Linked DNA regions of Homo sapiens. The protein of the gene in region 2 interacts with the protein of the main gene of each other region in a pairwise test. Each region holds a gene or a part of one and is shown on either strand. Other genes may lie near its edges.

What was found.
Region 1: the proteins of FNBP1L (region 2) and SGSM2 interact in a two-hybrid assay, tested with the Homo sapiens proteins (one large-scale study listed by BioGRID and IntAct).

The regions. Positions count from the first base shown.
Region 1 is NC_000017.11:2,364,855-2,368,672, reverse strand, and holds part of SGSM2 (small G protein signaling modulator 2), read right to left. Parts: intron 3,777-3,818; coding exon 3,616-3,776; intron 3,459-3,615; coding exon 3,332-3,458; intron 3,171-3,331; coding exon of another isoform or gene 3,034-3,170; exon of another isoform or gene 3,007-3,033; intron 2,299-3,006; exon of another isoform or gene 1,860-2,298; intron 1,635-1,859; coding exon of another isoform or gene 1,613-1,634; exon of another isoform or gene 1,517-1,612; intron 1,509-1,516; coding exon of another isoform or gene 1,443-1,508; exon of another isoform or gene 1,409-1,442; intron 1,403-1,408; coding exon 1,268-1,402; intron 1-1,267.
Region 2 is NC_000001.11:93,548,982-93,552,321, reverse strand, and holds part of FNBP1L (formin-binding protein 1-like), read right to left. Parts: intron 3,045-3,340; coding exon 2,896-3,044; intron 1,376-2,895; coding exon 1,217-1,375; coding exon of another isoform or gene 1,197-1,216; exon of another isoform or gene 1-1,196. UniProt on the Homo sapiens protein: Required to coordinate membrane tubulation with reorganization of the actin cytoskeleton during endocytosis. May bind to lipids such as phosphatidylinositol 4,5-bisphosphate and phosphatidylserine and promote membrane invagination and the formation of tubules.

The DNA.
Region 1 (3,818 bases), on a different chromosome or scaffold from region 2:
TGGGAGGGAGGGTGGGCATGAGGGCAGGCGCCTGGCAGTAGGAGGGCAGCTGGCAGCTTGTGCAGAGGGTGTGCTGGGTGTGTTCTAACACAGACCAGGCCGTCCTGCCTGCCCGGAGACAGTTACTGGATCAGTGGCCGGCTAAGGAACTGGGCTTCCCGGCAGAACTTTGGAAGCCTAAGGGGAGTGTGACATATTCTGAGGACATCCTCTGCAGGGGCGGGGAAAGGGAGAAGCAATTGATTTTGTAGCATGGGAATGGGTGGGAATGGGGAAGCTCCCCTCGTCTCTGGGAGAACTGGCCTCAGCCTCTTCCTACCCACCCCTTTCTGGAGCACCCATCCCAGCCCTCACAGGTCGCCTGGCTGATTGCTTGCTGAAAAGAGGGGGGCTCCCTCTCTACCAAGCCAGCTCTGTGCTAGGAAAGATGGGTGGTAGGCAGAGGAACCCTGAGAGGCTGAGGGCACTACGCTATCACCTCCAACAAAGGTGACCTCTCCATTCGTGGACCCTGAGACTCATGAGGGCAGGAACACATCTGTCTTATATCCCTGGCGCAGGTGAAGAGACGGAGCTCCGGGATAGTGAGAAACTTGCTCAAAACCACACAGTGAACCAGGGGCATATCTGGGGCGGGAGTTCATGTTGCCAGGCCCTGAGCCTGGCCCCTTCCTGGACACCATGCTGCAGCTATTTCTAGATTTCATGCCAAAGTACCAGGCCCTGCCGGCTGGGGCCCTCAGGCCTCCTGGGAAGACTGAGCCCTGGGGCCCTTCGCATGGCAGCCCTCAACCCCTCGCCTGACCCACAGCTGCTGCCCCTGCCCCAGGAAGGACCCGGTACCTCCATCCTGTTTCTGTTAAGTCAGGAGTCAGAAGCACCAGGCCCAGAGGCTGGTCTTCCCAATCAGCAGAGAGAAAGGAAGAGACCTCTGTCTGGCATTTGCCAGCCTGACCCCCGGAGTAGGAATGGGCTCAGAGATCCATTCAGGGTGCCCAGGAGGCAATCAGATAATCAGACCTTCCTATTAGCAAATCCTCTTCCTCCTCACAGCCTGGAGCCACCTGCCCTGGGCCAGCCCCTTTTCTTGCCAGCACCTGTCTGGCCTCCTTCTGCCCTCCCTGATCTGCCCCCGATGGAAGGGAACTGCCCTGGGTGCAAGTCCCCTAATGCCAACACTGCCGTTCGAACCCCTGTGGTGGGTGGCAGGCGGGCCCGGGAGGGAGGGTGGGGATGAGGTGGGTCAGGGAGAGGGAGGGATAAGAACCTTTCATCGGATTGGGAGCTGTGAGGTTCCGCGAGCAGATCATTGAGAGCATCGCGTGCAGTTTATCCTCCTCTTCCTCATCATCGTCCACCGAGGCCGCGCGGCTGGCCGCTAGGTGGTGGTAGTTAATAGTGACTGCTCAAAGAGAACAGCGAGAGGCAGAGGCATGAGGCCCTCATCCCTGGGCAGGACGGACTCCCTCCTTAAGGGGAGTGGAATGGAGGCCGGGGTCATCGTGAATCTGCAGGGCACAGAAGAGGGGAAGGGAGGGGACCAGAAAGCTCTTTGGATGATTTTCCTGGGAGAGTGTGGAAGGAGGCGAGGGGCTGGGGCAGCTGCAGAACCTCACTCTTCGGAGGCAGCCTCTCTAGGAAGAACAGAAGAGAGAGAACAGAGGTGGGAGGATGTGAAAGACCGGGACTGTCTGGGATGGGCTGGCAGCCCAGGAGGTCATCGGCCCTCACAGAGGCTGCGCATGACAGCTGGCAGATGGGTCCTGATCGTTCTCTAGCTCCTCTCAGGCTGGACCAAATCTGAAGATTACTCCAAATCCCCTTTTTCAGACTATAAATTCCACCTTCTTCCCTCCCAGGAAAAGGAAAGGGTTTTCCCAGAGCTGTCCTCAAGGAGCTGGAGTCGCTTGGTGGAGTTTCAGCCTCTGGGTGCCCTGGCTTGCCCTTGGCGAGGTGGTCCTGGAAGTGAAGTGACCAGGACTGGGAAATGGCAAAGATCGAAGAGGGGAGGCAGAGACTGGAGAAGCTAAACCAAGCAACAGCCTGAGACTAAGTGCCAAGTGTGTAAATACATTCTGGCCAAAGATGCGTCTCTTTGTCAGGTACATCTGGGAAGGGGGGACATCCCTGTGCCGTGTGCCCTCTGAGCCTGGTGGAGCTATCTGTGCTGTGGCTGAGTGTGCCGTCTGGGCAGTCCGGTCCCTAATACAGAGACAACTTGTTGACAACTTTTTGGCACAAGTTGGAAATTTAGGGAGCGGGTGGTCTTGTTAGCAATAAACGCTCTGGGCTGGCAAATTCCCCGACCTTATCTGTAAGAAAAGCAAGTCTGCCCAGAGAAGCCTATGGGCAGCAGCAGCACTCTGACCAGAAAGGGAACTTTGGTGTTGGTAGATGCACATAGACAGAGAGACCCCCTTGGGCCCAGGGGTGTGTGTCCAGGGTGGGGCAGGACCCACAAGGGCCAAGCCGCCTTTCTACCCGCCAGTGCCCAAAGCCCCCAGGCAGCCCCGAGTCTGCCTCTGATGCAACCTGCTACTTCAGCTAACGCTCATCAGTAGTTGGTTTGAGGAGGGCTCTGGCTCTAGGGGAGTCAGCAGACAATATTCACCATCCAAAAAGAAGCGCTGGGCCGGGCGCAGTGGTCACGCCTGTAACCCTAGCACTTTGGGAGGCTGAGGCAGGCAGATCACAAGGTCAGGAGTTTGAGACCAGCCTGGCCAATATGGTGAAACCCCATCTCTACTAAAAATACAAAAATTAGCCGGGCATGGAGGTGTGCGCCTGTAATCCCAGCTACTCAGGAGGCTGAGGTAGGAGGATCGCTTGAACCCAGGGGCAGAGGTTGCAGTGAGCTGAGATCACGCCATTAAACTCCAGCCTGGGTAAAAGAGCGAGACGTCGTCTCAAAAAAAAAAAAAAAAAAAAAGTAGCGCTGGTCCCATACCCAGGCTGTCTTGTAGGGGTTGGGGAGCAGGAGGTGAAGAGCAATGGAGGGTTCCCCACCTTCTACTTCTCGTTTCTCCACGTGTTTTACCCCTGGACAGGGTCTGAAAGGATAACTAAGAGTCTTGTGTAGTGACGCCTAGGTCTGCTGAGCCAAGAGTCCTGGCGTGGAGAAGTGGGGAAGGGAGCTGGGTAGAAGAGACGCACCTTTTCAAAGGCAATATCTGTGGGTAAAAGGTCCAGCTGAGAGGCTAGGCGATGAGCCTCTGGTGTTAACCTGGCCTGGTCAGTGGGCCCTGCCTGCTGCCCTCCTGGGTGACGCTGCGCTCCCCGCCTCCCAGAGCGTCTTCCTCTCCTCCCCCGGGATGAAGCTCGGGACACTCACTGTGCTCGTGCCTGTGGCCGGGGTAGATGATCCGGAACACATAGTCGGTGGCCCGCCCCGTGCCCATCTCCTCCATATCCACGGAGCGAATGCTGCTTCGTTTCCGTAGCTTGGGGAACACTTTCCCCTGTGGAAGGAGGGGTAGGTGGTCGGGCTGTATAGGGCAGAGTCTCATCCAGGGTTCCACACAAGGCCGCTCCTAAGAACTCCACGTGGGGAAGGAAGGGAGGCGGGCAGAGAACCCCACACACAGCCCTTCCCCTAAAGCCTCCCACCCGAGTTACCTTCCCTTGCTGGGTCCACAGCGGGGGCTCTAGCTGTCCCCGAGGCAGCAGCCCATTCTCCAGACAGGACAGAAAGGACAGCAGGTGTCCTCCCTGTGGGAAATGCAGCGGCGGCCTCTGGATGCCATCCTGGCTCACCAGCACAAGCGTGCCACCGCTCTCTGGGGGTGAACGTGGAGAGTGCGGCTGAGGCCCTCTCGTCG
Region 2 (3,340 bases):
AAATGTCTCTATCATTTTATAGTCAGCTACCGAAAACACCAGGAAAATTTAAAACATGGGCAAAATTAAAAACCAATCTTACTGCTTCTTCACACTTTACTTCCCCACACCACTGACTCAGGGTGTGGTCACACAACCAGCACTGCACAATCCTTGACTGCACAGTGTTTCCAACAACGCTTGCTGAAACTAATTGGAAAAATTTATCTATCCTAATAACTAATGATTCAGCGGAAATAACAAAATGCCCTAAAGGCGGTACACATATCTTCCTCTAACCCAGATAGTCAAAAAGTTTCTCCTTTAAAAATTAAAATTTGTCAACACTTCCCCTCCATTCAAGGTTTCCTCTATCTTCAAATGTGTATTTTTCTATGTAACTGTGTATTTTCCTATGTGTAACTGCTAAATGCTAAATAATCACTAAAGTGGTATTTCCCAAAAGATATTTTCAAGATGAAACATACAAAAGTATGAGATTAGTTTGGAAGGAAGCTTGTAAATTATTGAAAATTACCAGCTAACCTCAAAATATTTTGAGGTCTCAAACAAAATCTATTTTATTCACCTAAGAGCTAGACCAGGAGATTTATTTTGAAACTCTCTTTAAATCTACTTAAATAGATTATGTGCTACCTGCTCATTTTCTTCCTTTAGGAAACCAAAGTTAAGAATAGGTAAGAAAATGAAAATGATGTTATTATTTTACTAAATTATCCAACTACTATTTTTCTTCTTGGAAACTGTAGCTACAAATTCAAACTTCTAGAAGAAACCACTCTTTGGGGAGTCGGCTTTCCATAGCATTTCAGAGCAGTTTCACTATTCAAATTCACTAAAGTCACTGTGTTTTCTGAAGTAAAGGGGGCAGAGAGCATTACTATCCATGAATTCCTGCCCAATAAATCAAATTCTATTTGTAAGGCAGAAAAACACAAATCCTTCACACAGACTTAAGCGGGACATAAAGCAAAAGGCATCAATTAAGCTTCACACCAACGTTACTCAAACAGTAAAGTGCCACAAAATGTTTCTTGTGGTAATATTCACAAGATCAAGCCTACACTCAGCTCACATAGTGAACAATTAATCTTGGATGCCCTTTAAGTTTCCTTATTTTTTTCAACCTGTTGAATGTGTTTTCATTTTATGTTACTCTTCCTATGTCACACATGGCACAAAGGTGCCTGGTTAGTTTAGATATAAGTTACTGCACCTTTACTGTTTTTCTCTAGAGTTACATCTATGTATGACGTGGGAACGTAGCCTTCTTCACCGTTCTGTCTCCGAGCTCTTGTCCATCCGTCACCTTTGTCCTCCTCTATAATGTAGAGAACTTCACCTTCTTTCATTGCTAGAGTACCTTCATTATGTCCTAGATGAGAGTTTTCACAAGCATAATTTAAGCATTGTGATAATTTTTTTTAAAGTTACTAATACAATGCACAAAATACAATGAAACCCTACTAGATTTCAATGTACCTGGAACTACTGACTCTCACTAGCAACATCTCTATTGTGCTTTGTGGCTTACCCAGCACTTTCATATACATTCTCTCATTTGAGCTGCATAATAAGCCCGCAGGGCTGGATAACATCACCCCCATGTAACGGATGAAGTTAACTGAGTCACAGTGACATTACATGATTTGACAGGGTATTCTAATTCCTATGTCACTATTCCAACTCTTTTCCCAAATTTTAGTAGTCTATCTAAAAAAATTCAGCAGGTATGGATTAGGAAAACAGTAACCAGATAGCAAAAGAGCAGGAAGAAAGAAGGAAAAAAGAGAGTCTGAAGGGAGAACAGAGAAAAATACGGGTTTGACTCTAGAGATGGTAGAAACAGAATGGCCATACACAACTCTTTCACTCTCTATCCCCAACCACGCCCAACCTGCTTAGCAGTAACAATTTTCACAACTGAATCTTCATTTAACACGTGCCAAATTGCTTCCCTACTCTCTAGATTACATTATAGCAAGTTTGTTTTCTTTTGTTTTGTTTTAGAGATAGGGTCTTACTGCCCAGGTTGGATTCGAACTCCTGGGCTCAAGCAATCCTCTCACCGCAGCCTCCCAAGTGTCTGGGACTATAGGCACACATCACTGCACTTGGCTGCAAGGTCTTAAATTTAATATATTTTCTAATAAGAAGTAACTAGAGACTTTGCTCAATTTTAAACCAACACGAAGTGGGGAGAAAGACCTTAAATCAAGCACCATTTTACAACCGTTTATTTATGAAAGTGTCGCTCAGTTCTCCTGTTAGTTGAGGGAAAGTATTTTTCACAGTCCAGGATAAAGAGGAACTAAAAATCTGCAGGAGAAGGCCTCAGTGCCTTACTTCCCTTCCAGAGTTTGTTCTTCAACTTTCATAGAGTAAGAGATAACATAGTCAGTAGCTACTACATTCTCTCCCACTTTCATCTAAACAGGTGGCCTACGGACTCAGTATATGATGATGGCATTCAGCTAGCTATGCCTTGTACCTGTCTCTTAATGTTAGTAAGCTACAAGGAAGAGCATGAAGTGGCATCCGCCAGCATCCCGCTTCCTGGGTTGAGCTACATGTTCAAGCTGCCTCGACTTTGTTTAGGACATGTGCACAGTAAGGACTCTGGTGAAAATTCTGCACTGACCAAAATTGATAATTAATTAATAATCTGTATTAGGATGCTAGTAACGTGGGCAATTTCCTTTTAATTCCATGTACGGAAGAAAAATATCTACATTTGTAATACAGTTATAACAAAAGTATGCATACTAAAGAAATGGGATAATAATTTTCTGACAACATATATTACTTAAATAAGGATACTACAGTGAGTGACTTGATGTAAATACTTTTAAAGAACCAATTTTTTTACATACAATATTATTAAGAAAATCATACCATCAAAAGGGTAGATAGCTTTGCAGTGTCCAATAGCAGGCAAGGGATCATCATCCTCAAATTCATCATCAAACTCATTGTGGTGACCATGCTGCTGGGGTGGCCCACGGACTTCCTGGTTTGCATCATCAGTGTAACTTCCCTCAGGACTATAAAACAAAAAATTATCTCTGATCAAGTATCATAAACATGAGAATTCTATATATTATTTATAAATTGATCACCTCAGGATCAATTCCAAAAATTAAATATTAATGACACAGTTTCCACTTAAGCCCTATTTTTTTCAAATGTCAAGTATACAAATTACTTCTAATACAAAATGCTGCTTTGCTGAATTTCCTGAATTAAAAAAAAATTACAAGATTACAATATTCTAGGCACAAAGTATTATTCAGTAAATACACCTCACTATCACTCGGTCTAGACATAAAACAGAAAAACG